7 linked regions of the Homo sapiens genome follow. The protein of the gene in region 7 purifies or fractionates together with the protein of the main gene of each other region. This does not show direct contact. Each region holds a gene or a part of one and is shown on either strand. Other genes may lie near its edges.

Evidence for each region.
Region 1: the proteins of PRICKLE3 (region 7) and EPB41L1 purify together in Homo sapiens (affinity purification with mass spectrometry; 2 studies listed by BioGRID and IntAct, with this or other methods). This does not show direct contact.
Region 2: the proteins of PRICKLE3 (region 7) and ZBTB10 purify together in Homo sapiens (affinity purification with mass spectrometry; 2 studies listed by BioGRID and IntAct, with this or other methods). This does not show direct contact.
Region 3: the proteins of PRICKLE3 (region 7) and TUBGCP4 purify together in Homo sapiens (affinity purification with mass spectrometry; 2 studies listed by BioGRID and IntAct, with this or other methods). This does not show direct contact.
Region 4: the proteins of PRICKLE3 (region 7) and TUBGCP6 purify together in Homo sapiens (affinity purification with mass spectrometry; 2 studies listed by BioGRID and IntAct, with this or other methods). This does not show direct contact.
Region 5: the proteins of PRICKLE3 (region 7) and PPP1R7 purify together in Homo sapiens (affinity purification with mass spectrometry; 2 studies listed by BioGRID and IntAct, with this or other methods). This does not show direct contact.
Region 6: the proteins of PRICKLE3 (region 7) and TUBGCP3 purify together in Homo sapiens (affinity purification with mass spectrometry; 2 studies listed by BioGRID and IntAct, with this or other methods). This does not show direct contact.

Annotation. Positions count from the first base shown.
Region 1 is NC_000020.11:36,157,173-36,161,454, reverse strand, and holds part of EPB41L1 (band 4.1-like protein 1), read right to left. Parts: intron 1-4,282. UniProt on the Homo sapiens protein: May function to confer stability and plasticity to neuronal membrane via multiple interactions, including the spectrin-actin-based cytoskeleton, integral membrane channels and membrane-associated guanylate kinases.
Region 2 is NC_000008.11:80,520,726-80,525,007, forward strand, and holds part of ZBTB10 (zinc finger and BTB domain-containing protein 10), read left to right. Parts: 3' UTR 1-4,282. UniProt on the Homo sapiens protein: May be involved in transcriptional regulation.
Region 3 is NC_000015.10:43,384,145-43,388,426, reverse strand, and holds part of TUBGCP4 (gamma-tubulin complex component 4), read right to left. Parts: intron 2,637-4,282; coding exon 2,471-2,636; intron 2,222-2,470; coding exon 2,097-2,221; intron 1-2,096. UniProt on the Homo sapiens protein: Component of the gamma-tubulin ring complex (gTuRC) which mediates microtubule nucleation.
Region 4 is NC_000022.11:50,227,830-50,232,111, forward strand, and holds part of TUBGCP6 (gamma-tubulin complex component 6), read right to left. Parts: intron 1,749-4,282; coding exon 1,575-1,748; intron 200-1,574; coding exon 78-199; intron 1-77. UniProt on the Homo sapiens protein: Component of the gamma-tubulin ring complex (gTuRC) which mediates microtubule nucleation.
Region 5 is NC_000002.12:241,167,106-241,171,387, reverse strand, and holds part of PPP1R7 (protein phosphatase 1 regulatory subunit 7), read right to left. Parts: exon of another isoform or gene 4,214-4,282; intron 3,713-4,213; exon of another isoform or gene 3,651-3,712; intron 1,608-3,650; coding exon 1,521-1,607; intron 1-1,520. UniProt on the Homo sapiens protein: Regulatory subunit of protein phosphatase 1.
Region 6 is NC_000013.11:112,577,730-112,582,011, forward strand, and holds part of TUBGCP3 (gamma-tubulin complex component 3), read right to left. Parts: intron 1-4,282. UniProt on the Homo sapiens protein: Component of the gamma-tubulin ring complex (gTuRC) which mediates microtubule nucleation.
Region 7 is NC_000023.11:49,183,064-49,187,775, forward strand, and holds the start of PRICKLE3 (prickle planar cell polarity protein 3), read right to left. Parts: upstream 3,311-4,712; 5' UTR 3,235-3,310; coding exon 3,193-3,234; intron 1,831-3,192; exon of another isoform or gene 1,763-1,830; intron 1,648-1,762; coding exon 1,562-1,647; intron 855-1,561; coding exon 671-854; intron 1-670. UniProt on the Homo sapiens protein: Involved in the planar cell polarity (PCP) pathway that is essential for the polarization of epithelial cells during morphogenetic processes, including gastrulation and neurulation.

The sequences.
Region 1 (4,282 bases), on a different chromosome or scaffold from region 7:
AAAATAAGAAGAATAAAATAAAAAGAAAAAATAGAAAAACAGATAATGCACATGAAGCTTGCTCTAGCACAGTATTTGACATATAGAAGACACTCAGTGGCAGCAATGGCTCTGATCACCACCAGACAGATGGACAAACTGAGGTACAGAGAAGGTAGAAAGCTTGTCCAAGGACAGTCTGGGTGTGGGCAGCTGCACAGCCCAAGCAGCAGCTTAGAGCATCCTAAGAGAATTTGAAAATTTCCTAGGAGAGCTCCATACTGGGTGGGTGAAAGAAAGGGTCTTTCCCTGGGACATCACCACCTTTTGAGGGTGACAGAGAGATGGCCTCCTCCAAGACCAGTTCCCCCAGGCTCCAGTGAGGAGAGGAGGGAACAGGAGAAGGGAGAAGCAGCAGACCTTTGAGGGCAACTCTCACGGTCTCATGGTTTCTGACTCCTTCTCTCACTTGATTTTCACTAATTGTCTAAATACTGTTAGAGTTCAGTTAGCGTTACTTAGAATACCGTAAAATTGGAAACAACTTCAAATGTCAATCAACAGGGGGGCTGGCCAAATTAGTAGGGTTTATCCATTAAAAATTTAATTATGAAAGTATAACATACCTATTGCAAAAATTTTTGAGATAGATTTTATATCTACTGACATAAAAAGATGTCAATGTGTAGTTACATGAAAAATGCAAGTTGTAAAACAATAATGCAATGTATGATCCCATTCTGGTTTGTATGTTTATGTTGGTATAGAAAATATCCTGGAAGGATACACAACATGCTGTTATTAGCTACGACTGGAGAGTAGGATTTGTTTGGGGATCTAAGGGGAGAATACACTTTTTTTCTTTCTTTCTTTCTTTTTTTTTTTTGTGACGGAGTCTCGCTCTGTCACCCAGGCTGGAGTGCAATGGCGCAATCTCGGCTCACTGCCCCACAACCTCTGCCTTCCGGGTGCAAGAGATTCTCTTGCCTCAGCCTCCTGAGTAGCTGGGATTACAGGCGCCAGCCACCATGCCCGGCTAACTTTTTGTATTTTTAGTAGAAATGGGGTTTCACCATGTTGGCCAGGCTGGTCTTGAACTCCTGACCTCAGGTGATCTACCCGCCTCAGCCTCCCAGAGTGCTGGGATTATAGGCATGAGCCACCGTGCCTGGCCTACACTTCTGAATTATTAGATTTTCCACAAATTTTTTTTGTAATTAAAACTAAAGAAAAGTAAATATAACAGTAAAGAAATATTTGTTTTTCTGTTTTATTCACTTCCCATATGCTTGCTGGAACTCCATTTTCTACCTGTTTTCTTCCAATCTGTATCTATGTTCATACCTAATTTTATACCATTGTAATATGAATACTGATAATCTTATGGGTCTTCTTTCCCATTTAACATTAATTGTATCAGACCATTAATGACATCACATCATGACATCATCATCATCTCCACTAATGTTCATGGATACTTCACTATGTACTAGTTACCATGCCAAGATGTTTACATGCCTTAACTTATTCAATCTTGATGACAACCCTAAAACCAGGTACTTGGACTATCCACATTACAGCTGGGCAAACTGGGGCTTTGAAAGATTAATTAACTTGCCAATTGCCTCACAGCTAGTAAAAACAGAAAGAAGACTTAAACCCTGTTCTATGCAAGTGCCAGGTCCTCACTGGGAACCTCTCTGTCCTATTCCCCTCGAAGATAGTGAGTGGTTAGTGAGAAGAATGTGGCAAGTAGGGAATAGCAAGAATATGGCAGGCACTATGTCTTACAACTTGAGTGACCTTGATCAAGTCACTTCCCCTCTTGATTAGTTCACTCATTCTTTCATCGGACAAGTATTTGCAAACCACTGAGCAACATGCTGCGACGAAACAATGAATAAAATGTGAACTCAACTCTGCCTTCAAGGAGACTGGAGTCTAGCGTCATTCTCTTCAAACACAGAAAGGATCTAGCCCCGGCCCCACCTCTGTCGCAGAGCAGTCATAAGCACAAAATGAATCAAGGATGCAAAAGAGCTTTGCAATTGCACAGCTCCATCCACTGCAAGCAGTTTTTCTGTGGGTGTTCACCACTGCGTATTATTTTATCCAGTGGATGTTCCAAAGCTTTCCCAATCATCTTCCTATTGTTGGACACTTAGTCCCAATTTACTGCTATTATAGAGGAAGCTCTGATGGGGATTTATTCAAAAGAAATAATTCAAAGGAAAAACAGGCCAGATGTGCAAAAAAGATGCTACCCAATCTTCCAGATGACTAAAGGGAGACCAGCCCTTCTCAAACTCACCAGGCCTGAAACAGAATTCCTGACCCTGTGGCCTTACCCACTCCAAGCTCCTCCTTCTCCAACCTGGCGAACCACCCACTACCAGAGGGACACCTTAATGAGTGCCAATCTTGATCCCTCCCCAGCCCTCCAAGTCCCCACAGTTAAGGTTTCTCCTGTAAGATCACGTCCACCCTCTCCTGTGGATCATACGGTTGCCAAAAGGACCTTCCCAAAACACAGTTCTGTCATGCTCCTCAGCAGACTAAAATCCTGCAAAGATTCCTAGAGCATCCCGGCTCACGTCAAGTCGAAACACCTTGGCCTGACATTTAAGAGAGACAGAAGCGGGAGAGAAGTAATGTTTACTGAGTTCCTGCAATGTGTTAGCATTACACTAGGTGCTTTATATAACAACCACAACATGGTCCCTGTGAGACAGGCATGTTTATCTGCATTTTACGAATGAGGAAACTGAGGTTTGGGCCAGCTGAGTGATGTGCCCAAGGCCACGTGGCTAATACAATGCATTGCTGTGACTATAGCCTACGTCTGGTGGATTCCAGAGCTCCATCAAAAACCCAAACACTAGGTGACTTTCTGAGTCACCTCCCAGCTCACACTCCGCCACACACACTATCTGTTCCACGCACATCAGACCGCCCACTCTTCTTCAGAGGCATTCCTATTTCCTTCCCCTCTGACCTGGGGAAGTGGGTGCCCTTCCCCCTTCAACCATCGAAATCCGACTTGGCCTTCAGTGCCCAGCTCAAAGGTCCCCGTCTTCTTGAAGCCTTCCCTGAGCACCAAAATAGGAATCCATGCTGAGCCTATGCAATAGCACACTCTTTACTTTTAGTGTGTCATGTCTGCATCTCTCCCAGCTAGACTGGGAGGCCTTTGAGGAGAGGGATGCATCTGACTGAGTGACTATTTCAACTTGAACAAAACAGAGTATGGCCTCTGAGAAACTACAGGCTGCCTGGCATGGCCTTCAGGAACATGGCTCTGACCCACACTGCCTAGGTTTGAATCCTGACTCCCCCACAGCCTAGCTATTTGACCTTGAACAACTATCTAAGCCACAGCTCCATCAATCTGTAAAACGGGAAGAATAACTCCTATACCTCATCTACACCTCACAGGGCTTTGTGAAGAACGTATGAGTTGTACATGGAAGCCCTTAAAACTGGGCCTGGCACATAATAAATGCTCAATAAATGTTAGCTGTTACTATTCTGATCCACAAGCCTCTAGCCCACAAAGGAAGCAGTGCCAGCCTGCTCCACCCCCACCCATCCACCAAGGCTCAGCTCCCTGCCCACAGGGCCTCCTTAGCCCAGTCCCCACTGTGGCCTCGGGATGTGTCCAGAGCCAGCCCATCTTCCCTAAAAGCCAATGGGAGCAGGGAGTCTGGTGTTTCCCCACTTCTGGGGGACCCTGGCCAGGAAGGAGAAGGCCAAGGCTAATCCTTCTCTGAGAGCTCCTAGTCAGTACTTATCTACCCCTACCCCTCAGCACTATAGTAATATTCAGTCCACAAAGCCACCCTTGCCTCACCAGGCACACACACACACACCCCTCACACACCTCTCCACCTGGACTGGCCCTGGCCTACCAATGAATTGCCTGGCTCCACTGGACACCAACCTGGTACTTCCAGATATTGCCCCCAGTAAATGTCATGGTAGAAAGAAGGGCTCTGGACTCAGACCGCCTCGCACTTTCCAGCTGCGTAACTTTAGTCCAGTGACATAACCTCTCTGAGCCTCAGTTTCTCCTCTGTAAAAAGTGGATAATTAATCACATCTATCTGACAGGGTTACTGTGAAATGACTCAAAGCACTTCTTGCAGTACATGGCATACAGTAAGTTTCAATAAATACTATCACTTTGATTGTGTAATCATTGGTATTTATCTCCAGGCAGAGATGATCATCCTCCCCGCCCTTTTTTTTTCTTTGAGAGGGAGTCTCGCTCTGTCTCCAGGCTGGAGTGCAGTGGCACGATGTC
Region 2 (4,282 bases), on a different chromosome or scaffold from region 7:
CCATGATTCAACAGTCTCAAAAATCTTACAAATAAAATTCTGAGAAGCTTTATTATTCTATAAATTCTTCAGGGTACAAAGGGTGACATATTGAGGTGAAATTGTCAGATTTACTTAGCCTGGTGACATGAATTAGCTGATTGTGGAACTCTCAGCAGCATTTCACGTATTGTTAACATGTATGGCATTTATTAGCATATTGTATATTATATAAGATTGAGGGATGTCATATTTTCAGCTTTCTTTTAAATAAAAATTGAGTATATTTTCCTATTTTATATCAGGTAACTAAATTATGCTAGTTATGTGGAAAAAATTGCAAAGATGCTTTGACAGATATAATCCCTTTGGTGCTCCATCTGATCAAAGTTGAAAAGTTGATGTTTTTTAAGAGACAAGCTTTATCATTGTCTCTGATTTCAGTAGAATAATGGTTTATTGTTAGACAATGATGTTTCTGCTTGGATAAATCAAAGATAAATTACAGTTACATGGTTAGATGCATCTTTTGTCATCTATATTGTAGTTTCTACATAACTGTAAACCTGACAGATAAGAATAGTTTCGGTTTGATTTTTGTTTAAAACAGATGAGTACTTCTTAATGTTCTAGACAAATGAGTAAAATGTATTTCTGGTAGAAATTAGTTGGGCAAAGATACTATGAATGAAAAAGTATTTTAAACGTAAAATGTTCTTTGTGAATATGTAAGTATAGTATAAAGATTTCTTTCATCCCATTTATCCCCTTCCTTTAAATAAACTAGTTTACAATTGGTAGATCTGTCTATATATAAATATATATTAAAGAACAAAGATATATATCTAAAAATCACCTAAATCTGCTTTATTAGACTACAGTTCACTTATTGCATAGAAACTGGACTTGGCTTTACATTCTTAATGTACTTTTACTTTTCCTCAAGATATGAACTTACTCTCTTGAAGCTGAATTTTCTTTTACTACTTAAATCATTTATGTATATCTGGTAAATTATGACCAAATTTTTGTTAGATTGCATACAGTAAATTGAAATACACACTTGGTACACTACGGGATTGTTGTGCTTTTGTTTGGTTTTAGTTGGAAATAAGGTTTGATGTAGATGGCTTGTTACTGTTAATTTAAAATATTCTATAATTGTCCATTACTTTATGTTGTGTTGTGACAGATTTGGCTATATTTTTAGTCAATTGAAATATGATACTTTAAAAGTTTGTTTTTAGGTAATCCAAAGGAAAAGTGTTTATACTCTTGAATATATTAGCCTCAGCCTATATAAAAATTTCTTTGAAGTAAACATTTTACCGGAAACAGAATTGACAGATTTTTCTACTTGCTGACTGCCTAACTTATTTTGTTTCATGATCTCGAGGGACTGCCTTTTCCCATCTAGATCTTTTAAAAAAATAGTTTTAGTACTAAGGTATACTACTGGACATTTCTATTTTTTTAAGTGTATTCTTTTTCTGACTTACAGTAAAATTTCAGGAAGTTGATAGATACTAAGAACTTATGATTGGTCTCAGAGGTAACAATGAAATACTCATAATTTTGTCTGTGGAACTCTGGCAGAATTATGTTACACATTTGGCGAAGTTGTCTCTTGTAATTTATATTTTAAATGAAAAAGTATTTTAGAGCTTTTAATGAAGGGGAAGAGTATAAACTTTCTTTCATATTCACTCTGTAGTTACAGACCGTCTCATAAATCAAGATTGTGCATTATTAGAGTTCTCAGAGACAGATACTTCCATATGGACCCCTGTTCATTTTTCTTATTTACTAGATATTTTGCTAAATTTAGCACACTAGCAATTAAGAGTTTAAAAAAGAAGAAACGTTATAGGAAAGGGAAACTGAACAGTAATGAGTAGCTTTGAAATTGGGGAAAACACACTAGCTGGGTTAGGTACAGCTATCCTAATGGAGAAGAGTGAGCTAAATGCGTTAATTCATGTAAAGTGCTTAGAACACTGGTACATAATAGGTGCATAACACATCTTAAAGTTGTTTAATAATAGATAAGAACCAAGAGGAAAAAGAAATAAGAAAAGATGGGGGAAAGGAAGGAGAAAATAGGAAATGAAAGGATTAGGACTTGGGCATTTATATTAATACAAAATGGTGTAAACGGCCTGAATATCACTGTAGTAGTATCATACGGGGGAAAGTGTGATGGAAAATAGGTTTAAAAATCTTAATTTTTAAAACTTTAGTAAGCTTTATTTATATTTTTTAGGATTTTCTGAACATAGCATGAAGGGTTTAGATTCATTTTTCTGAAAAACGATTAAAAAAACTACCAATTTTTTTTTTGAGTGCCCACACTTGCCGTTGTGCTGTATACATGATTTTACCTTAATCCTCTATAAGGTAGGTGCTAATTGTCTCCATTTTATAGATGAGGAAAGGCTCAGAGAAATTCAGAAACTTGGCTAATTTAACACAGCTGTGACAGAGCTCGAATTTGACCACGTCTGATTCTGAAGCCCATACTCTTTCAGGGAGGCTCTATTGCTGCCTCATTAAACAACTCTTGTAGAATTTCAGCTCTTAATGGAGTCTATGGATTATATTTTTCCTATAAGACAGCTGTGTTTAGAATTTTGAGTGTCTTTCCTCCCCCCAATAAATTTCCTTACTACTCTTTCTTCATAAAGCAGTTGTTTTGTCACTTTGACTATATTAAGACACATCAGTGTAGCACATGCTCTTAACTGGCTGTGGCATTTTAATTTTATAAAAGAATGGTTTTTATCTGAAGAACTAGATAGAAACCCCAGTTTTTGTGCCGTTCAGTCACCCAGATCCTTAAACTTAACTATGGTACATAATATCCACACTTAGAACTAACAGGTGTTTAGTCACTTTAGGACTTAAAATGGAAAGTTTTTTTTTTTTTCCTGCTGTATCTCTGCTTTCAACTGAAGTTAAAGAATTCTAGATAGTTTAAAATGTGTTAGGGATAAGCACACTTCAAAAGATGTTTTCTAGCCCTAAATTTTATGACATTGGGTACTTAAATTTGGAGTACACTAGCTATTGAGAACAATATTTTGGGTTGAGGAGAGATGGTTGAGGCCATTATTTAGTGGGAGCATTGGCATTTTGAACACTGTAAACAAAAGAACACTTCCGCCTGCTGTTTGTAAAAGCTCTTTGGGAAGATCTTTTACGAAGACCAACTTTTTAAAATGTAAATTACCTACCTAATATAAGTGTCCTAAGACATGTATGTAAACTTCCGGAACTGTTTTGTCTGTGTATTTAGAAAATACACAAGAATCTTTATTCAAACCTAAAAATATAAACTTGTGAGCACTAAACTGCTTCTGGCTTTGTGAATTTTATTGACTGACATTTAATTCAGATTTCTTTGCAAGTGTACTAATTTAGACTAATTGGGGTAAGGGGAACACCTTAATGAACTTTGACTTATGTATAATTCAGATATCTTTGTACTTAAGGCTTACAAGTTTGAATTATGGAATACTATAAGGGTTTTTTGTTTATTTGTATGTTTTTATATGAAAGTACATAAATGACAGACTACCTCCAAGTAATCCTGCTTTAATTAATAGCAGTGATTTGTAATCAGTGTATCTTTTAAGATTCTCTACAGGTTTTAGAAAATATTAAAAATTCCCTGTAATTTACATTTGTGCATAATCTTGGAAATGGGTTGAAAAGCAAAGGTAAACTGCTTCATCCCATGTTGTATATTTGTGGACTGATTGACTACAAGTGATGTGATGTTATAAATTTGAAGTCTTTGAAACTTTATTAATGTAGAGAAAACATAACTAGCTTTTTAGGTTATTTCAAAGTTAGTAATAGAGCAAAGGAAATCAGAACTGGCCAGATATTCAGACTTGACTTAGAAAAACAGGAGTTTGTTGATTTTGTTTGGAGAAGGGCACAATAAAGGGGAGCCCACATAGCATTATAATGCCTAGTATCTTTAAACATGTAAAGAGCTATCATGAGGCAGAAGAATTAAGAAACTTTATATGTTTCTAAGGGGTCATGATTGGGACCATTGGCTCAAGATTGAAAATCGGTTTTTAATTATCCAAAGATGAAATGGGGCTGCTTCAGAAAAAGGTCTACCACTGGAGATAACGCTATGAAAAGTGAAAGAGATTACTTAATCATTTTGACAAAGGCAGTATTGACCAGACATTTCTATTTCAGAGTTGGATTTGTGCTTAGTTTTTTTTAGGTGTTGGGACCCTTGTAGTTGCTTTTTATTTTGCTTAGTCAACAAACACTAAAATGA
Region 3 (4,282 bases), on a different chromosome or scaffold from region 7:
TTCAAATCAAATGATACTTCACAGCCATTTTAAGATCGAACATTCTGTGTCTATATCACAGCTCTACCTCTGATGACCAGGAGTTTTTGAGACAGTGACTAGAAAGGGAAACCATATTTATAATAGATTACTGTGCTTCTAACCCATGGAGATTTGATGCTCTTAGCAGTTCCAGACACTGAACGAAGTGCACTGCTTTTTAGTCCTGTCTGTTTCAAAAACCCCTGTAGAGGTTTGTCTTTGGTGGGTGGACTGGCTTGCTTAAATAGAAGTACCTGCCGGGCGTGGTGGCTCACACCTGTAATCTTAGCACTTTGGGAGGCCAAGGCAGGAGGATCACTTGAGCCCAAACGTTCAAGACCAGCCTGGCCAACATGGTGAAACCCCCATCTCTATTAAAATACAAAAAAGTTTGCCAGGCATGCTGGTGCAGGCCTGCAGTCCCAGCTACTCAGGAGGCTGAGGCACGTGAATTGCTTCAACCCGGGAGGCGGAGTTTGTAGTGAGCCGCGACTGCTCCACTGCACTTCAGCCTGGGTGACAAAGCAAGACCCTGTCTCAAAAATAAAATAAAATAAAGGTACCTACCCTCTCCTGACCTATGAATCAGAAGCTCTGGAAGTAAGGACTTGGTGCAAGTGCAGGTTTTAAAATTTCCTCATGCGGGCCAGGCGCAGTGGCTCACATCTATAATCCCAGGACTTTGGGAGGCTGAGGTGGGAGGATCACTTGAGCTCACGAGTTTGAGACCAGCCTGGCCAACATGGTGAAACCCCATCTCTACTAAAAATACAAAAATTAGCTGGGCATGGTGATGTGTGCCTGTAATCCCAGCTACTTGGGAGGCTGAGGCGGGAGAATCGCTTGAACCCAGGAGGCAGAGGTTGCAGTGAGCCGAGATCACACCATTGCACTCCAACCTGGGTGACACAGCAAGACTCCATAAAAAGATAAAAAATAAAAAATAAAATTTTCTCATGCGATTCTATGCTTAGCCAATGTTGAAAGCCAGGAATATAGTTAACAACACAGCTGACTAAATGTCTCATTTCGTGTTATCACATATCCATGAGACAAATGTTAATATAAGCCACAGAACATATATGCTCCTTTGAAAAATTACTGGTCACAATTTAAGTCGGTGGCACCAGCACAATTCAAAATGAAGAAGACTGTGCACCAGGAGTCGGAGGCCTGGCACTGACCTCACTATGGCTACTCACTGTGCCACACCAGGCAAGCCAGACAAGTCAGCTTGCTGAGTGTTTGCTTCATTTATAAGAATGAGAAAATAATATTTGTTCTGCTTTCCTCATAAGATGATTGTGTATAGAAATGAAAGTATAAGTTATGAGCCATACTAAACTACAAGACACAAAATTTAGTCAGAATTAGTTGATTCCTAGGAGTTATTGCAAACGATAGAGACAGATCCAAAATGCTGATTTTCAGAATTTAAACCAAGATCCCCCCTTTATTCAACTAACTAACCAACTAAAAACCACCTGTCTTTTAGTTAGATAGGAAAATGGGAAGGCAGTTCTGCCTCTGTTAATGAAAACAGAGGCTTTTCTTTTCTACTTTCTGCCTTCAACTCTCTGCAACATTTCTTTCCAAGCTCGGTTCTTAACTCATCAAGACATCAAGATAAAAACAAAAGTCAAGTAACTCAGTGTCTTTTTTTTTTTTTTTTTTTTTTTTGGAGACAGAGTCTTGCTCTGTTGCCCAGGTTGGAGTGCAATGGTGTGATCTCGGCTGACTGCAACCTCCGCCTCCCGGGTTCAAGCGATTCTCCTGCCTCAGCCTCGTAAGTAGCTGGGACTACAGGTGCATGCCACCACACCCGACTAATTTTTGTATTTTCAGTAGAGACGGGGTTTCACCATGTTGGCCGGGCTGGTCTTGAACTCCTGACCTCAGATGATCCACTTGCCTTGGCCTCCCAAAGTGTTGAGACTGCATGCGTGAGCCACTGCGCCCGACCAAGTAACTCAATTTCTAGGAAACTAGTCCAATTTTGCCTAAGAAAAAAAAAAAAAAAAAAAAAAATATATATATATATATATATATATATATATATACGATGAAACACAAACCTCAGCCACAGTGCTGCGAATGCGATCCACCACCTGTTCAAAGTCCACCAAGCTGAAGAGTGGCTGCTGCTTGAGACGGTGCAGCTCTGCAGCAAAAGTGTCTTCCTGGTTTTTCAAAATGGATCCTGCAAAATAGGAAGACACCGTCAAAGGAGGACGGAGAATACCCAGGACAGTTAGGGTTTTCTGGGGAGGGCTAATCTCAGTGGGGCAGCAACTTCACCTGCTTCTCAGACAAACGTCATGATTCTGCTACAATCTCAGGATAGGAATATTATCGACCACTCGCTCTGACCAGGCATGCTGTGGGGCCACATAGTATTAAGGAAGAAGAGATTTTGAGGGTGTGGTACATTGGACAAGGAGATTTCTACCTTTTCTAGTCAGGTTCACATTTTGATTCTCAAACATCTGGACAGATTCTCCAACAAATAGGATTTTTTCAGCAACCCTCACTGGAATGTAGGATGGCAAAATCTCCACTCGTAGGGAAAACTGCTTCAGAGATGGTGCCAGCATGTTCTCTTCCTCAATCAGGCGCTAGTCAAGGAAAGAGTACACATCGAGATGCAGTGTGAAGCAAGAAAAGGAAAACAAGAAAATACCTAGTAACTCTCCCAACCCATGATTTAAAATAAAGACGCAGGGACTTCAAATCTGGTGTTGCACAGTTCTCAAACCACCCATTTTGGAGAGATGTATTTCATCTTCAGGCAGCAGAGTGGCATGGTGGAAATAAGAGTGGCTTAAATACTGGGATTTGGGCCCTCACTCTGCCTTTACTACTGAGTAAAAACTTGCACAGTCGACCAGCTTCCTTACTTGTACGATGAAAGAGGTGGTCTTTTTTGTTTTCCAGGTCTTCTCTCTATGTCTTCTCTGCTGGTGCTCCTCAGGGCACTGTCCCAGACTGTCTTTTCCTCTCAGCCTACACTTCCTATACAATCACATCGTCTTCTGTGACTGATCAGTGTAACAGATAGTTTTAATTTTTAGGTCACAGACCTCTCTGCAATCATAAAAGCTATGGATCTTCCAGACAAATGTACAGACATATAACATTTCATGAACCTCCTGAAGCCACCCAAGGGCCCCAGATTAAAAACCTCCAAGCCCCATGCTGATGATTCCATATGTAGATTTAAAGTAAGCTGGAGTGCTCTCATGAGCCCCAGGCTCAGCCCACTGAACATTTCCCACAAGTTCCTCAAACTCAACATGCCCCCCATTAGACCCATCTTCTTCCCCGCATACCAGCAGTATACACCCCTATCGTCACTACTTGCCCAGCTGCTGAAGGCAGAAACCTGGGTATCATCAATGATTCTTCCCTCTTGACTCATTTCCAAGCACTCACTAAGCCTACTGATTCCACCCTCTAAACATCTCTCACACCTCTTTGCTCTTTTTTCATATTCAATGTTAGTATCTTTGGTTTAGGGGACTATTATTTTCACCTAAGTCTCCCCAACACTCTCTTAACTGATCGACCTGCCTCTAATCTTGATTTTTAAAAAATGATTCCCCACACAGCATCCAGAGTGATTTATCATGAAGTCTGACTGTGGTACCCACTTGCTTAAAATTCAATAGCCCCCAACTCTTTTCAGGTTCAAGTACAAACTCATTTCCACTGTTTACATGCACCTTTGTGATCTTGCCTCTGCTTAACTCAAGTTTCATCAAGTACCAACTTACACAGTTTCAAGTACCACCTCTCCCTCACACCATCTCTTGTAACATTTTACTTCAGCCTTTATTTGATCATTTCAATTGAATTACTACTGTTTCCCCAAATGAACCATGTCCTTAATGGCCCCTGTACCTTTACACATATCATTCCTTCTGCCTGGATGTCTCTTGATGGCTCCTCCCAAACTCTTTGCAATTTAGACATACCTTCCACTGAAAAGCCTTCCCTAGTCACTCCAAGACCCTATCCCATGACCATGTTCCAAGAATACCCATATTTAGTCTTTTCAGAGCCCTTAGCACACTGTAATGTAACTGTTTACTTTTCTATATCTCTTCCCCTAAACTATGAGCTCCTTAGGGACAGACACTACTACTTTTTATTTGTAGCACCTAGAACAATGCCTAGCACATAACAGGCATTCAATGAAATATTGCCACAGGATAAATGAATGAATGGATGGATGGATGAATGGATGAATATGGACAATGTA
Region 4 (4,282 bases), on a different chromosome or scaffold from region 7:
GGCAAACCCTCCACCACCCAGCAAGCCCCACACCGCTCCCGCAAAGTCCCCTGCTCAGCCGCCATGCTGAGGCTCACCTGAGCTGCCGGCCAAGTTTCTTGAAGAGAAAACCAATGGTGAGGAGGCTCAGGGTGGGCGGAGTGGAAAGGACGCAGGCCCGGTAATACTGCAGGTACCTCCTCAGGCCACTGGTGAAGGCCTGTGGGCAAAGAGGCTGGGAGGAGGGCGGCCAGGCACATGGACGCAGCCGTGCCCAGGGCCTGAGGGGCACCAGTGCTGGGAACAGCGCTTTGTTTCTTGCCTCAGCTCTGGGCTCCATTTCCAAGCAATGGGCCTCTGTGAGCCACACCCCGCCACCGGGCCAGGTGGAAATGCGGCCCATCCACAAGAAGCCAGAAGCTGTGGCCCACCACCAACCCTTCCTCTCATCTGAGCCCAGCTGCCCCAGGGGCGCCCACCACCAACCCTTCCTCTCATCTGAGCCCAGCTGCCCCAGGGGCGCCCACCACCAACCCTTCCTCTCATCTGAGCCCAGCTGCCCCAGGGGCATGGCAAAGGGGCTGGGGGGGAAATGGCGGCCGTGCTCTGTGCACAGACACTAGTGCTGTGAGGGCTGCAGCTGCTCCGACCACAGCTGTCTCAGTGGCACCAGCATCCTGGGCAACGCCACAGCAGCAGGCCCTGCAGGTCACACTAAGACAGGGGCACCCTGGACCAATCTCAGTCCACCCACCCCAGGAGCCGCCTGGCTATGCCTGCCAGATGAACAAGAACCACAGTCCAGCCCTTCTCAGCGTCCCCTGCTCTGACCCCTTCTCCACCATCTCTAGCTCTCAAGTCCCCCGGGGCTGAGCCTCTGCCTAGAAGCTCTCCCCGCCCCGTGCAGCTCCCACCATGCCCACCTCCACAGCCCATCTAAAACCTACACCTCACCACATCACCCCACCCGACAGCCCCTGCTGCAGCAGCAACAGTCAAAGGAGGCTGCGCTGCCTGGCTCCTCCAGGGCTCTCTGCCCACCTTCCCCAACACCCTCCTCTCAATCCCCCAAACCCAAATGCCCCATCATCCACCTGCCTATTCTCTCCCACTCAAGGTGCAGCCCCTGTCCCATGGGCCTCTTCCCAGCACATGAGCCAGCTTCAAGACTCACCAAACAGCAGCTTCCGGAGCCAGACTTGGCTCAGAACTCCCAGCAATGTAAATTCACCCAACAGGAGGGCCCTGCGCTGTCAGTCATCCACAATGTGCCGGGCCCACTGGGGAGCAGGCAGCAAGAGCCCCACTCACGCCTTTCCTGCCCTGCGCACCCCTTATGCTGGCTGCACCTGCCTCCTACACACCCCAGGGCCCACACAGCCCAGGGCCCACACACATCTGCCCCAAGTTTCTAGTGAGGTAAAACATCCTCACTGACCCATCCCTCAAGAGCCACTATCGGGTTTCAGATGTTAGCAAGGAAAGAAAAGGTTTAGACTCTCTGGTCCTGCAGAAGGACCTCTGAGATTCTCTCTTCCAGGTCGTGTGCACCGTTCTCACAAAGGTGTGTGACAACCATGAGGCAAAGGCCATACCTGGAACACGAGGCCCTTGCTGTACAAAGAGTCCAGGACGGGCTGCAGAGAGAAATGACTCAGGCGCGTGTAGCAGGTCCCATACTCGGCCACTTCCGAGAGCAGGCTGCTGATGCTCTCGGGAGACGCTCCTGACACGTGGACGCCCCGCTTCACCACAAAGGCCTGGGCCGGCTGCACAGGGGCAGAGGACACTGGTCACAGAGGCCAGGCACCCAGACCCCCAGTAAGGTGCCGTCTCCCTCCACCCTTGCACCCAACCCCACGCCACCTAGAGTGCCTCCAGGACCCAAAAGCAAATGCCCAGAAGGCATACCCAGAACTCCCACACCGAGGGACCAAACCGAGGCACAAATCCTCACTGACCACACTGAAAAATACATGTTTAAAATGCCAAGTGTAGAAAAGGGTAGAAAAAAACAGAACACCTTCCACAGGACACAAGTACACAGACAGCCTCCTGGGGCAGAAGCTATAAAACATGACGGCCGTGAGACCCGCTCATTTGACTCTTCGGGATGAATTAGAGAAATGATGGAAGATGCACAAAGACTCGCCACAGGACATTCTCCACAGTATGTTTATAACCAGAGAGTGGAGACCCCCAATAGAGGGCTCATGACAACCAAAACGAATGGGGTGTAGCAGAAGCCAGAAGGGAGGTTACAGCCGCAAATACCCACGTTAGAAAGGAAAAAAAATATCCCGCAATACAAAGGAACAAGATACCAAACCACAACAGCACCGTGTATACCCTAAAGAGATATTTTAAAAAGAGCTGTTAGGCCAAGCACAGTGGCTCACACCTATAATCCCAGAACTTTGGGAGGCTGAGGCAGGAGGATCACTTGAGCCCAGAAGTCTGAGACCAGCCTGGGCAACATAGCAAGACCCCCATCTCTAAAAAAATTTTAAAAGTTAGGCCAGGCATGGTGGCTCACGCCTGTAATCCCAGCACTTCAGGAGGCCAAGGCAGGTGGATCACTTCAGGTCAGGAGTTCATGACAAGCCTGGCCAACATGGCAAAGCCCCGTCTCTACTAAAAATACAAAAATTAGCCAGGCATGGTGGCGTGCACCTGTAGTCCCAGCTACGCAGGAGGCTGAGGCAGGAGAATTGTTGAATACGGGAGGCAGAGGTTGCAGTGAGCTGAGATCACGCCTTTGCACTCCAGCCTGGGAGACAGAGCAAGACTCCGTCTCAAAAAAAAAAAAAAATTAAAAATTAGCCAGCCGTGGTGGTGCATGCCTGTTGGTCCCAGCTACTCGGGAGGCTGAGGCAGGAGGATCAATTTGAGCCTAGGAAGTTGAGGCTGCAGTGAGTCATGTTTGAGCCATTGCACTCCAGCCTGGGTGATCCTGTCTCCAAAAAAAAAAAAAAAGAAAGAAAAGAAAAACAGGCTGGACGCAGTGGCTCACATCTGTAATCCCAGCACTTTGGGAGGCCGAAGCAAGCGGATCACTTGAGGTCAGGGGTTTGAGACCAGCCTCACCAACATGGTGAAAACCCATCTCTAATAAAAACAAAAATTAGCTGGGCGAGGTAGTGCACGCCTATAATCCCAGCTACTCAGGAGGCTGAGGCAGGAGAATTGCTTAAACCCAGGAGGAAGAGGTTGCAGTGAGCTGAGATCACGCCATTGCACTCCAGCCTGGGCAACAGAGCGAGACTCTATCTCAAAAAAAAAAAAAAAAAAAAAAAAGCAGTTAAACCCAAAACTAGCAGAAGGAAACAAAAAATAATTAGAGCAGAAATAAATACAGAGTAGGCCAAGCACAGTGGCTCACACCTGTAACACCAACACTTTGGGAGGCCAAGGTGGGTGAAATCACTTGAGGTCAGGAGTTTGAGACCAGCCTGGTCAACATGGTGAAACCCCATCTCTACTAAAAATACAAAAATTAGCCAGGCGTGGTAGTCCATGCCTGTAGTCCCAGCTACTTGGGAGGCTGAGGCAGGAGAATCGCTTGAACCCAGGAGGCGGAGGCTGCAGTGAGCTGAGATCACACCACTGCACTCCAGCCTGGGCGACAGAGTGAGAATCCGTCTCAAAAAGAAAAAAAAAATACAAAATAGAAAAACAATAGAGAGAACCAAACAAAAAGCTGGCTCTTTGAAAAGATCAACAAAATTGACAAGTCTTAGCTAGAATAATTAAGAAAAAAGATGACTAGGGCCAGGCACGATGGCTCACGCCTGTAATCCCAGCACTTTGGGAGGCCGAGACGGGCGGATCACAATGTCAGGAGATCAAGACCATCCTGGCTAACATGGTGAAACCCCGTCTCTACTAAAAATACAAAAAATTAGACGGGCGCGGTGGCGGGTGCCTGTAGTCCCAGCTACTCAGGGAGGCTGAGGCAGGAGAATGGTGTGAACCCGGGAGGCGGAGCTTGGAGTGAGCCGAGATCGCGCCACTGCCCTCCAGCCTGGGCCACAGAGCGAGACTCCGTCTCAAAAAAAAAAAAAAAGAAAAGATGACTATGAAAACAAGAGAAAAAAATCAAGTTACTAAAATCAGAAATGAAAAGTAGGGGCCGGGCGTGGCGGCTCACACTTGCAATCCCAGGACTTTGGGAGGCTGAGGCAGGCAGATCACTTGAGCCCAGGAGTTCAACACCAGCCTGGGCAACACGGCAAGACCCCATCTCTTCAGGCATTTTAAAAATTAGCTGGGTGGGCCGGGCGTGGTGGCTCATGCCTGTAAT
Region 5 (4,282 bases), on a different chromosome or scaffold from region 7:
ATTGGATCAGAATGGAGAGAGGTATGGACACCATAAAGCGCTGTGCAAATTCTGGCTATTTTTTACTATCTTTGGTGGCCTAAGGAACAGGATTCTTCTGTGTTACAGGGTCAGGCACTACCTGGCCCCTAGTGATTGATCACCAGCCTGCCTGCCTCCCTGCTAGCTGTGGTACCCAGGTTGGCCCCTGCCTGTGGTCTCAGCACTCTGTGCCCCATGCTCTGTTCCTAGGCAGGGCATGCAGAAGGAATCGTTACGCTTCAGGAACATTGCTTCAGTATCAGCTCGTTTCCCAAACCTGCTCCCTAATTTTTTGCCAGGTGCCCTTTCCCTATCACCTGGTCCTCTGTCTCTGGACTCCTTATTCCTGTTGTTTGGTTTCTTTGTGTTGTTCCCTGGCTTCTTTGCCAACTCCCTATGCACTAATTCAACCAGCCTACCACCAGCCACACCTTCCTTCAAGGGTGGGCTGCACATAGACCCACCTGGACTCATTGAGGCTCCCCCTGGCCTGGTACATCTTTATCACCTGCCAAATTCTGGCTCTGATCTTCCCAGACATGCTCTGGTATCCCATCATGACACTACTCAAGACCCAGTGCCACTAATAAGGGGCAAGGAACATTTGCAGCAGGCCACCTGTGTTCTAGGGAAACTTGGATGACCTTTTAAAGTGGGGAAAGGAGAAAGCACAGGACATAAGCAGGGTCAGCAGCACGGCTAGAGGAGAGACAAGGAAGAATGATGCCTTACACTCAGCATGAATCCTGGATTAGACTGAATGTATCTGAGGACACTACTACATTCCCAGCATCACAGGGTGACACCTGTGCCGCAGTCTCTGCAGGGCCACGTGCTAGCGGAAAGGCAATAAACCTTAGGAGATTTCTCTAAGGGAATCCTAGCACTGAAGACTTCCACTCGGGGATCATTTCCCAACCCCTTTAGAGGAACTGCAAAAACTTCTTATATTCTGTTTCTCTTCCTGCTGACTCCACAACACTACTCCTGAAACCATACCTGTGACAAGACAAATACAAGGCAAATTCCAAGATGACTAACTGCAGAAACCCATCCAACATTTCCTTCTGTTGTGCTGGAATATATCTGTAGGGAATGCGTCTGCCTCTCTGCTGAGGTTTGCAAACCATTTGGTCAAATGACAATTGTAGGTTCTACCCATACCTAGATCAGGGCTTCTCCAACCTTTGTGTGTACTGCAATCACCCGGAGTCTTGTAAAGCAAAGATTTTGACTCAGTTTTCATCTGGGCTATGGTGGGGCCCAAGATTTTGCATTTCTAACAAGCTATGTCAATGCTGCTGATCTGTGGCTCACGCTGAGGAGCACAGACAACACCCAATACAAGTCTACAAGAGCGCCCACCCCAAATCTCATGATGTGCGGAGTCACTCAGCATGAAGGCTTACAGGAGATTCTTGTATTCATTCATAAGACATTTTAATCAGTGAGACCAGTTTAGTCAAAGTGTCATCAACCCCAGCGTGTATTAAACTTACCCAGAACTCTTGCAGCTCTGTTAGATGGCTGATATTTTCAATCTTTTTGATTCTATTTGATGCAATGTCCAACATCGTGAGTTTGTTCTAAAAGAAGGAAATAAAATGTTTCCTGGATTACCTCTGATCAACAGTGATTTGCATGACCACGCAGGCAGTGTCAAGTGCTGACCTTAGGGCTGCAGGTGCACTGCCCTCTCTGCCCTCACAGGGTAAGGGCATGCTATGGAGGGTGACGAGACCTGCTTGCTTCCTGCAGCCCTCCCTGGGACAGTGTTTCCATCAGAGCCTGCCCAGCTATCTCCCTGAGCTCTCCTGATCGCTGGAATTTGAGACTGTGTCAGACTCCAAGCCCAGTCCTCCCAGATCCCTGTCCATTGAGACAGACCTAGTGAGACTGATGGTCCCAGGAAGAACCGAGTAACCCCCTGACGCTCTGAAGAAAGGCTGACAATTGTAGAAACATTTACTTAGTGCTCATCACGAGGAAATGTACGACCAAGTAATCTTCAAAACAAAGTTCCTCTCTTCATTTAGGGATGAGGAACTTGGGGCTCAGTGGGGCTAAGAATCTGCCCAGGCGCACAGTAGCAGTGGGAGAGGCAGGACTCTCAGACCCCAGGCCTACACTCTTGTCTGGGAAAAGGGTCCCGGGAGCATAAGTGCAGAGAAGGGACCCATGCTGAGGACTGGGTGCTGGGCCTGCTGAGCACCTGCTGCAGGGTGTGTGCCCCCACTGGGAGACAAGAGTGTGTTTTTAGGATCTTCTACTCTGAAAATGCACATCAGTTACTCACTTTCCAATACATGTTAGCTAAGCCTGAGTAATAATTTTGTTTCTCATCAAAAGGAAAACATTTACAAGCTGTCTGAGAACCTCTGACAAAGTTCATTCCCTTCTCTGCCCTCACGCTCTGCTCCCTCCTGAGTCCCTTCCTTGGTTTTCTACTGCATTTTTGGTATTCCAATTCCAAAGCCTTCTAAGTTTTAAGGGAAAGTTAAAAAATTTCTCAAAAGCAAATACTCCTCCCCCCATCTCCCCTGAAATGTACCCAGCCAGTAGCTTTCCCAATTCGAAAGCGCTATGGCTGTGGCCTGGGAGCTCCTCTGGCTGTACCACCCTTGCTGCCTTGGCGCCCAGCACCCCAGCTGGCACCAGCTGCGTGTGTCAAGTCTGACGCCACTCTCCAGCAGGCTATACGTGGCATGCTGCCTAGGAGGTGCCTTCAAACCACCCCATCTCGGTGCCCTGGTCAGGTCTGCTCACAGAGTATCAGGCTCAACAGTGTGCGAGGGAGCTCAGTGGGGCGGGTTCAGAGCAAAAAGGACTGCAGGAAAATGTTGCAGAAGACGCGACTGTGGGTAATCCAACGACACACCGCCTGGCGGTGGGGCTGGAACAGGCCTCTCTAGCACGGACGGCAGCTCTCCCCCGCACTCTGCACCATTCTGAGATGCTCATGGTCATCTGGTATGCAAGCCCAGAAACTGGCAAAATGAAAGTGGCCTGGAACACACGCAGGATTTGAGCCTCGTGAGGTCCAAGCACCAAGGCTCAGCACGAGGGGCAGAGCCGGTGGTGGGCTCTGGCTGTCAGAACCGGTCCATCACCTCTGAGCTCAGGGATCCATGTAGGCACTCAACACTATTTCACGTTTTTCTACAGGAGCTGGACAATGTTGTGAAAACTCATCCAAAAGCAAACTAGTAAGAACTGCTTAAGAAACAGAAAAAAAGAATGGAACAGGGTGAGGAGAGCAGGCACACCAAAGGGCATGACACAACGCCACAGAAACTACACCTGTCAGGGACCACTGCAAACATATTCTAGACCAACGGGAGAGCCCAGAGCTGGAGAAGACACGAAGAACAAGACAGGAGTCGTGAGACACTGGGATGGGGGGTGTCGTCTAAGTTCCCACCTGGGACAAAACTACATTTACTTTCTTATTTCCCACCATAAAAATAAATTCCAGATAAATTAAGAAACAAAACTTAGGAGAAAATATTTGTCTGATCTTTAGTTGAAAAAAATGGCAGAAGAAAGACTGTCACATTTGATCATGATGAAGATTACAATAACGTAATTACCTTTAATACAACAATTTTTTTTTTTCTGTTTTGTTTCAGAGGCCCAAGAATAATCTGGTGTTTAACCAAGATCACAGTGTAGCACTTCTACTGGTAAAATTCTGAACCACACTTCTTTCCAGTTTTCCTGGGACTGGCTGCTTATGTGAACTGTGCTGCAGATTGTCTGTCTCCCGGTGGATGCTTGGTGGTGACTGCAGGGCCTTGGCTCAGGGAGGCCAGGGTGCAGGAGGGCACCAGGGCTCCCTGCTGCGCACCCCACCCGGCCCCAACCCCAGCCCCTGCCACACAGTCCTCAGCGCCATTCCACTGCAGGCACGTCTCGACTTACCACTCTAAACTACACAGGTGAACACTTGGTTTGCATGCTAGTTTTATAAACTTTTAATTTCAATGCAAAGTCAAAGGAAGGTGACCAAACTTTCCACAGGCAAATTTGAATTTTTCCAAAATTTTATGCAGGTGTTGGTGAAATTTACTGCTGCCAACTAGGCCCTGGGGTTGAGGCACAAAGGCCTTTAATGAGATTGAAACACTATGTTTATAGACCAATCTGGTTGTATTTGCTGGCAATTTAACAAAACAGAAAAAAACAAGTAAAATTGAATGAGAAAAAGTCTTTTATTTGTCTTGAACACCGCACTGGGGCAGAGCAGGGTGAGCTGGAGGCA
Region 6 (4,282 bases), on a different chromosome or scaffold from region 7:
TCTATCATCATTCTAAAATAAAACATTTTTTTAAAATATATTAATGCCAAGACTCACTTTTCACAAATTCTGATTTTATCAGTCTGGAGTGGGGAGCCATGGCATCAATATTTTTTAAAGCTCCGTTTTCAAACTTTTAGTCTTCAAGATAAGAAAGCAACTAAAATGTGAGGGGGGAAAAAGCTTTCTTTGGTAAACTCAAAAATGAATTTCAACCTATATCACATGCCACATATGAAAATTTGTTGGGAAAAGCTGAGTGTTGGGAGAAGCTGAGGCAGGGCTTGCATGTCTGACTAACGTAAAAGAGTCTTGGAACATGTCCGGGGTCCAGGGTCTAAAATCCCTTGAGGCCTTTGGAACGCCAATCTGTGCTAAAGGGCGGAAGGCTACCCTGACGCACCATAATCTCAGCCCAGGGCATAAAACCCCTCGTGGCTTGGATGGAATCCAGGACTCGTGGCTCTGGAATGTGTCTAGACTTGCTGGCTCCTTGCTCCTTGCTCTCCCAGGATCGATTGTATCTTGAGTTAAAAGAACCTGCTCTCGGCCGGGCGCGGTGGCTCACGCCTGTAATCCCAGCACTTTGGGAGGCCGAGGCGGGCGGATCACGAGGTCAGGAGATCGAGACCATCCTGGCTAACACGGTGAAACCCCGTCTCTACTAAAAATACAAAAAATTAGCCGGGCGTGGTGGTGGGCGCCTGTAATCCCAGCTACTCGGGAGGCTGAGGCAGGAGAATGGCATGAACCCAAGAGGCGGAGCTTGCAGTGAGCCGGGATAGCGCCACTGCAGTCCAGCTTGGGCGAAAGAGTGAGACTCCGTCTCAAAAAAAAAAAAAAAAAAAAAAAAAAAAGAACCTGCTCTCCATTATCTCAAGTAGCAGAGCAGATGCTAAATCATCACACCTGTAAATCATGTGCTTAATGCAACGCGACCTTTCGACCCCCACATTCTCACCACCTGTTTCTTTGTTTGATCACCAATAAATAGTCTGGGCTTCCAGAGCTCAGGGCCTTCACAGCCTCCATACTTAGCGATGGCCCCCTGGACCCACTTTCGCTCTCAAACTGTCTTTTCTCATTCCTTCGACTCCACCAGACTTCGTCACCCCCACGACCTGGTGTTGGGTCTGATCACCCCAGCAAAAATTAAATAGAAGAGTAAAACATAAGCCCCTCTTAGAAATAAAACAAAACAAAGAAATCTTTGCAACTTTGAGTTTGGCAGAGTTCCTACATGACACCAAAATGATGACCCATTTTTTTAGAAATTCATACATTGGCCTTCATCAAGATTAAAAACTTTTGCTCTGCAAAAGACACTGTTAAGAGAATGAAAATACTGAGAAAAAATATGTGCAAAACACAAAGACATAAGCAAAAGTTTTGAACAGATAATTCACCAAGAAGACATATGAATGGCAAACACACACACACACACAAAGATGTTCAACATCACTAGGAAAATTAAAATTAAAACCACACTGAGATATCACAACACACTTGCTAGAATAGCTAAGATTAAAAACCACTAACACTGCTGAGTGCAGGTGGGGCCACGGCATCCCTGGAGCTCTCCCACACTGCTGAGTGACAGTGGGGCCACGGCATCCCTGGAGCTCTCCCACACTGCTGAATGCCCGCGGGGCCACGGCATCCCTGGGGCTCTCGCACACTGCTGAGTGCCAGCGGGGCCACGGCATCCCTGCAGCTCTCCCACACTGCTGAGTGCCCGCGGGGCCACGGCATCCCCGGAGCTCTCGCACACTGCTGAGTGTCAGGGGGCCACGGCATCCCTGGAGCTCTCCCACACTGCTGAGTGCCGGGGGGCCACGGCATCCCTGGAGCTCTCCCACACTGCTGTGTGCGGGTGGAGCCATGGCATCCCTGGAGCTCTCCCACACTGCTGAGTGGGGGTGGAGCCATGGCATCCCTGGAGCTCTCCCACACTGCTGTGTGCGGGTGGAGCCATGGCATCCCTGGAGCTCTCCCACACTGCTGGTGCAGCGGCAAAGCAGCCACAGCCATACTGGAAAAGAGTCTGGCAACTTCTGAAAACAATGAGCATGCACCTGCCCTGAGGCCCAACAACCCCACTTGCAGGTGTTTATTCTAGAAAACTAACTTAAGTTCACATAAAAAACCTGTCCATGAATGTTCATAGCAGCATTATCCATAACTGCCAAAAACGGAAGCACTCCAAATGTCCCTCAGTGGTAAAATGGATAAACTGGTTCATCATACAATGGAACACTACTCTGCAATGAAAAGGTGAACTATTGATATGGCACTGTAAATGCATCTCAAACGCGTTATACTAAGTGAAAGAAACAAGTCTCAAAACTTTTGACTGAACACTGTATGACTGCATTTACGTGAAATTCTAGAAGCGGAGACATACACAGACACAGGATGGTGGCGGCCAGCACAAAGGCAAAATGGTAGCACAGAGGAAATCACTGTGAACCTAAACACTGAGAATTTTTTTAAATGGGCTAAATAGCAGAATGGAGATACTAAAGGACAATTTAAATGCAAGCTAGAAAATCAAACACAACAAAAGAACAGTTAGAAATTATGAAGAAAAAATAGTAAAATTTTTCTATCATTAAAAAAAAGTCAGCCCTGCGTGGTGGCTCACACCTGTAATTGCAACACTTTCAGGGGCTGAGGTGGATCACTTGAGCCCAGGAGTTTGCGACCAGCCTGGACAATACAGCAAGATCCTTCTCAAAAAAAAAATTCTAAGTCTGTCACTAGCTTTGAAAAAAATAATAAATTTTAAAAAAAGGAAAAGTCCTCAGATTGAAGGATCATCAAGTGTTAATCCAGGTAAATTTTTAAGTTCCACACCTAGACACATTATTGCAAAATTTCAGAACATGCAGGATTTTTTAAAATTCTAAAAGCTACCAGACACATCTTCAAAGGAGTAAGAAATGGATTAACATCAGACTTCTCATCAATAATGAAAGAATACCTTCAAAGTGGGCAGAGGAAAAACACTTCAGACCAGAATATCTATATCTGACTGATGATCCAAGAGTTCAGGAATAGAAGCGTAAGAGAAATAAAGACATTTTCAGACTATTAAGTAATTATTTAGATCAGCAAATCCTGTTGATTCTATTTCTAAAAGCATATCCCAAATATGATCACTCCACAGCTACCATCCCATTACAGGAAGTCTCCTGAGGAGCTGCTCACTTGCTTCCACCTTTGCCCCCTTAGAGTGAATTATCCACCCAGCAGTCAAAGTGATCCTCTTAAAATATAAATATTATCATCACTCTGCTCACACACCCATCACACTCACAACAGAACCCAACCTCCTGGCCCCAGCCCAGGGAGCCGGCCCCTTGCTCCCCACATTGCACTCCTGCTATTCCTGGAACACACCAAGCTCACCTCCAGCTCGGCACCCAGCTCTCTCTTCTCCACATCCTCTAAGGACTCACACCCCCCCATCTTTCTGTCCCTATTCTAGCTAAAGCAGACACAAGCGCACTGTGTCAGCAAGGATCCAGTGAATGCCTGCATAGTGGGGAAAGGAACAAAATGAAATCTAAAATGTTTTGTGGGGTCACAGGGTCGGGGTAGTTTTTTTCTCCTTATATTTTTCCACTTTCTGAATTTTTACACTGCGTATATATTAATTTTACAAATATTAAAAGTATCATTGAAAAGTTTCCTTTAAAAGTTGTGTCACTATTTAAGAATTTTTTTTTTCCCAGACAAGGTCTCACTCTGTCGCCCAGGCTGGAGTGCAGTGGTAAGATCTCGGCTCCCTGCAACCTCTGCCTCCTGGGCTCAAGTGATTCCCCCACCTCAGCCTCCCAAGTAGCTGGGACTACAGGTATGTGTCACCACATCCAGCTAATTTTTATATTTTCTGTACAGACAGGGTCTTACCATGTTGCCCAGGCTGGTCTCGAACTCCTGGGATCAAGCAATCCTCCCGCCTTGGCCTCCCAAAGTGCTGGGATTACAGGTGTGAGCCACCGTACCCAGCCAGTAAAAATTATTTTTAGGTTACCATTTTCACACTCAAGTACATCACATAAATATCCCCAATCCAAATGTTTTATATACTTTTCAACTTTCTCATACCAAAAAGTTAGGAACTCTTCAATGCCAGAAACACTCTCCTCTTCACCTCCTCACTTTCTCTGCACCTCAGATGGATGTCATCATTTCACCCCCACTTACCTCTTCAGCCACACCTGAGTCTCCCTGTCCTCTTACCAACCAAATTTCCAGTTTATCCTTCTTGCTGATT
Region 7 (4,712 bases):
TCCGCCCGCCTCAGCCTCCCGAAGTGCTGGGATTACAGGCGTGAGCCACCGTGCCCGTGGGCAGATATGTTATTTTGTGTTTTGCTCATTGCTGTGTCCTCAGTGCCTAGAACAGTGTCTCACATGCAGTAGGTGCCCCATAACTATGTGTTGAATGAGTCAATCAATGAAGTCATGTGGTGAATGAAGTGCTGGGAGGGTAGAATAGGGAGTGGGGCCACGCATGGTGGCTTGCTCTTGTAATCCCAGCACTTTGGGAGGCCGAGGCAGGATCACTTGAGCCCAGGAGTTCAACATCAGCCTGGGCAACATAGGGAGACCCTGTCTCTACAAAAAAATTTTAAAAATAGCCAGGCAGGGTGGCATGCACCTGCAGTCCCAGCTACAAGGGAGGCTGTGGTGGGCAACAGAGTGAGACCCTGTCTCAAAAACAATCAATCAAAAATAATAGGATTGGGGTGAACAGGCCCTGAGGAACTGGTCCCTCAGTCACCCAAGGTATGGGGGGCTGACCACTCTTCCATCACAGAGGGGCCAGAAGGACCCTCGGTCTGACTGCACACTCTAGCGTAGCCCCAGAAATAGGTTCCCACCTGAGTGTGTGTGTGTGTGTGTGAGCATTAGTGTGCACCCACTGGACAGCAAGAGTGGAGGGCTGGCCTCTGGTCACCTGCTCCGGCTTAAGGCCTGGGGGCACCCAGGCATACTCCTCCGATGCACAGCCTGAGTCGTCGTCGGAGATGGAGTGGCGCTGGAAGTCCGAGATTAGCCGACACATGATGCGTTCCAGGTCCACAGGCACCGCGTGCACTGCATGCTCCTCCCGCGGGCATTTGCAATGCTGGCAGATCTTTCTGAGGGGGCCGGGATGGGGGTCAATTACTAAGGAGTTGCCCACCCGAACCCCTCGGCAGCCCAGGTCCAATGGAGGAGCGGGGACATACAGATTATCACCACCAAAGGTCTGTGAGCAGGGACAGGGATCTGGGCCTGGGGGCAGGGCTGCAGGAGGTGGGCCTATGAGCCAGGGTGTGGCTGGGCTGTGAGCCAGAGGACAGGTCGTGGGGAGTGGGATGCTTTGTGGGGGAACTTTCACTAGACACAGGCATCTAACCTGTGGTGAGGCTCTGAACTTGTGGGCTCTGAGCCTGTGGGTAGGGCCTGAGTCTGGGGGCTGTAGGCTCTGTTTATTGGGTGCAGGGCTCCAGCAGGAGGATAGGACGCTGGGCCTGGGAGAGTAGGTCTGAGTCTAAGAGGGGTGCTGGAGGCCAGAGGGCGGCGCTCAGAGTTAGAGACGAAGAATCTCCCTAGGGATGCGACTCCGCGGCTACGGGAGAACACTTCTGGGGGCGGGGCTGCGTAGTGGGTGGAGCTCTCCTGGGAAAGGACTTTGGGGAATGAGTCAGGGGGCGGGGCTCTGAATCTGAGCCTGAGGCTCTTTTCCCAACTGAGATCCCTCTGTAGGCGGAGCTCAAGCGTAGGGGCGTGGCGTAAGGCTCCTGGATTTCCCCCCGAAGGCGGAGCTCTGACAAAGGCGAGGCCCTTTAGGGGCGCCACTTACCTCCAGCCGTGGAGCAGGAAGCCAGGGCACTGCTCCCTACAGGAGTTGCAGGGCTGGCCCCGGTCTGGGTCCTCTGCCTCTGGAGGCTGCAGTGGGCGGGGGCAGATGCAGGGCCGGGTGAGGCGCGGAAGCAGGGAAGGAGAAGTCAACGCCCGCCCCTCCACTTCATTGCCCGCGACCGCACGCTGGGGCCTGTCTTACCTGGGCAGCGCTGGGCAGGCTGGGACAGCGCCCAGAGTGCGGGGGAGCGGGACACAACCGAGGCAGAGGCGGGGCAGTTGGAGCCACCTCCTTATATGTCCCCTTTTCAGGGAATTCCCCTTCCTAGGCTGGCCTCGGACCCCCCTCCCCGTCCGCCCCTAGCCTCAGACACCTCCCACCAGCCTTAGATCCTTCCAGGGCTCAAGCACCTCCCCTATAATTCATTGTACTCTCCCCACTAGAGCACAGAACCCCTACTCTGGGCATCCTCTCCCCGGCCTCATCCCGGTTCCCTCTCCATCTACGCCGCCAGCAGCACTCCAGTTCCACAGGGTAGGAGACGAGACCGCATTCTTCCTTGAGATCCCCACGTGAACCCTGCCCCTCTCTTCAGAAGCTCAGGAGCTCCTCCCCTAAACCCTGGCCTCATGCCCTGATACCCAAGGAACTGGGGACCCTCCCCAGGATCTCAGGAGGCCCCTGCTCCATTCAGAAACCCCCATCCCAAGAAACCTTGGCCTTTACCCATCCCATCCTAGGGCTATTTATTCCTTCTCCGGACCATCAAACCCAGACCCCACATTCCCAGGTCAGAGACCCACTCCAAAGGAAGTGAAAGAACCTCCTATCTAAGAAGTCAAAAACTCCCTTGCTCAGGCGGAACCCTGGAAGCCTTGTCCCCCCAAATCCCAGTCTCTTGACTCTCAGCATTTCGGCATCCCAGGAGTGTAGGACTCCATCCCTCCGTGCACATTCCTCCAAGGTACTGTGTCCTTTAGAAGCTGAGGAGGTCGGCCAGGCTCGGTGGCTCACGCCTATAATCCCAGCACTTTGGGAGGCCGAGGTGGGCGGATCACCTGAGGTCAGGAGTTCGAGACCAGCCTGGCCAACATGGTGAAACCTTGTCTCTACTAAAAATACAAAAATTAGGCGGGCGCGGTGGCGGGCGTCTGTAATCCCAGGTACATGGGAGGCTGAAGCAGGAGAATCGCTTGAACCCAGGAGGCGGAGGTTGCAGTGAGCGGAGATAGCGCCACTGCACTCCAGCCTGGGTGACAGAGATTCAGTCTCAAAAAAAAAAAAAAAAAAAAAAAGCAGCAGCTCAGGAGGTTCCTGCTCAACCTAAGGCTTCAAGACCCAGTTCTCTGGCCCTCAGGATTCCCTCCCACAATTCATAAGAGAGGGGTCCCCACCAGGTCCCAGGAGTGCTGATGAAAGTGTGTGGAGAGGTGATTAGGGGGTTTGGGCCACCAGATCTACACCTTCCTCCATCCATTCGCCTCCAGCAGCCCCAGCCCCAGGTCTGGGAATGCAGGGGATGGGATTCCCAGATCCTCTGTGGGGCACCTATTCGCTATGCCTATCCATTGCCCCCTTGCCTGGGCCTCAGTTTACCCCCGACCCCCACCGCTGCCCTGACTCCCGCTCACCGCACGCCCGGAGCGGCGCCTCCGGGACCCACGCGCGAACATGGCGCGCCCGGGCAGGGTCAAGCCGGGCCGGGTCAGGCGAATGTAATCCTTGCGACCGTCAGGCCACCGCGCGTCCGGCCTGGGAACTCGGTTCCGTAAACCTGACACCCTCGTGGGAGGAGCGCGCCCCGCAGGGCCCGCCCCCGGGCATGTGGTCTCTCCGCTGCCAGGGCGCCCCCTGCCTAGAGGTGAACTGCACGTAGCCCGGAGTGCCCCGCGGGAAAGGCCTCTGCCCTCCCGCTCCGGGCCGGTGCGGGGCGTCACAAGGCACGACCCCCAGAATCCCGGCGTGCCACGTGGCCTCTCACGGGACCTGGGGCTTGAAGGTTCTGTAGTGGAGGATGGGGAGACTCAGAGGTGGCCAACTGGACTGAGAGGGGTGGCGCGCTAGGGTGCTTGTGTTGACGTTTTGTGTCGATTTATTTCGGATGCTTATTTGGGAGAGGGGTTAAAGACACCTCTTGGCTCCTCCCCACTGGTGAGGTTCCGAGGGTCTCCCCGATGAATGCTGCAACAATGGGCCCCAACCTCACCCGCAGCCCCAGCTGGTGCTCGCTGGGAACCTGGGAACCTGGCCCTAGCCACCAGAGAGCTAGATCTTATACGCACTCCTCCCTTCTCATTCCCCTCTCAGCGAGGCCAGGTTCCAAAGCCCTCGTCCCCTCTCTCCCCTCATCCTTATAAGCCTAGCTGTCCAGCCCCGTCCCCCCACCCCAAGTCTTGAGAAGTAGATCTTAAAGCCTTCCCTCCCCCACCCACATTTTTCTCTCTCCAGTTATCCCCTTCCCCAGCTCAGTTCCAGGGCGGGGAGCCTCTCCTTCACGCTCTCAGGCTTGGCTGTGCCTCCGGGCTGGGGGGAGGGGGTCCCATGGCCTCAGTCAGAACTCGGCCCGGGTCTCTATGCACGGAGACTGCAGCGGCCAGGCCCTTCATCGCGGGCCCCGGGGACCTCTCCCCGCCCCCCATTACACATGTCCCTGTCACTTCCCGTGGAGTGGAGAGGTAAAAGAGAATAACTAATGAACTAAGGAGTCACCCCGGCGCCCCACCTCCCCTCCTTGCCTAACCTGTCTCCCATTTCTCCAGCCTGGGCGGAGGCAGGGAAAGGAGAGACAGTAGGGTCTGAAGATTAGGGATGGGGTCAGGCAATGTGAGGTTTCCTCCTATTCGGACCCCTTGGGGATTTGAGGAGAGGGTTCCACAGGGGCTCGGAAGAGGCTTGGCTAAGGGACCAGAATTAGAACCAACTCCTAGAAAGACCGGGCATTTGGTGGCCAGTAGTGGGAGGGTGAGCAGGGCTACTCAGAGAGTGACAGAGTGATTGGCAGGAGAGGCTTCCCAGAGGATGCTGCTCTGCCTAACACTTTTGAAGGGGCCTGAAATGGTGCAGCAAGCTGAACTGCGGTCGGTGGGTCCGGGTGGAGCTTGTTCTCACCACCTCTCCCTCCTTTCTCCCCCGGCCAACCTCCTCCCCGGCG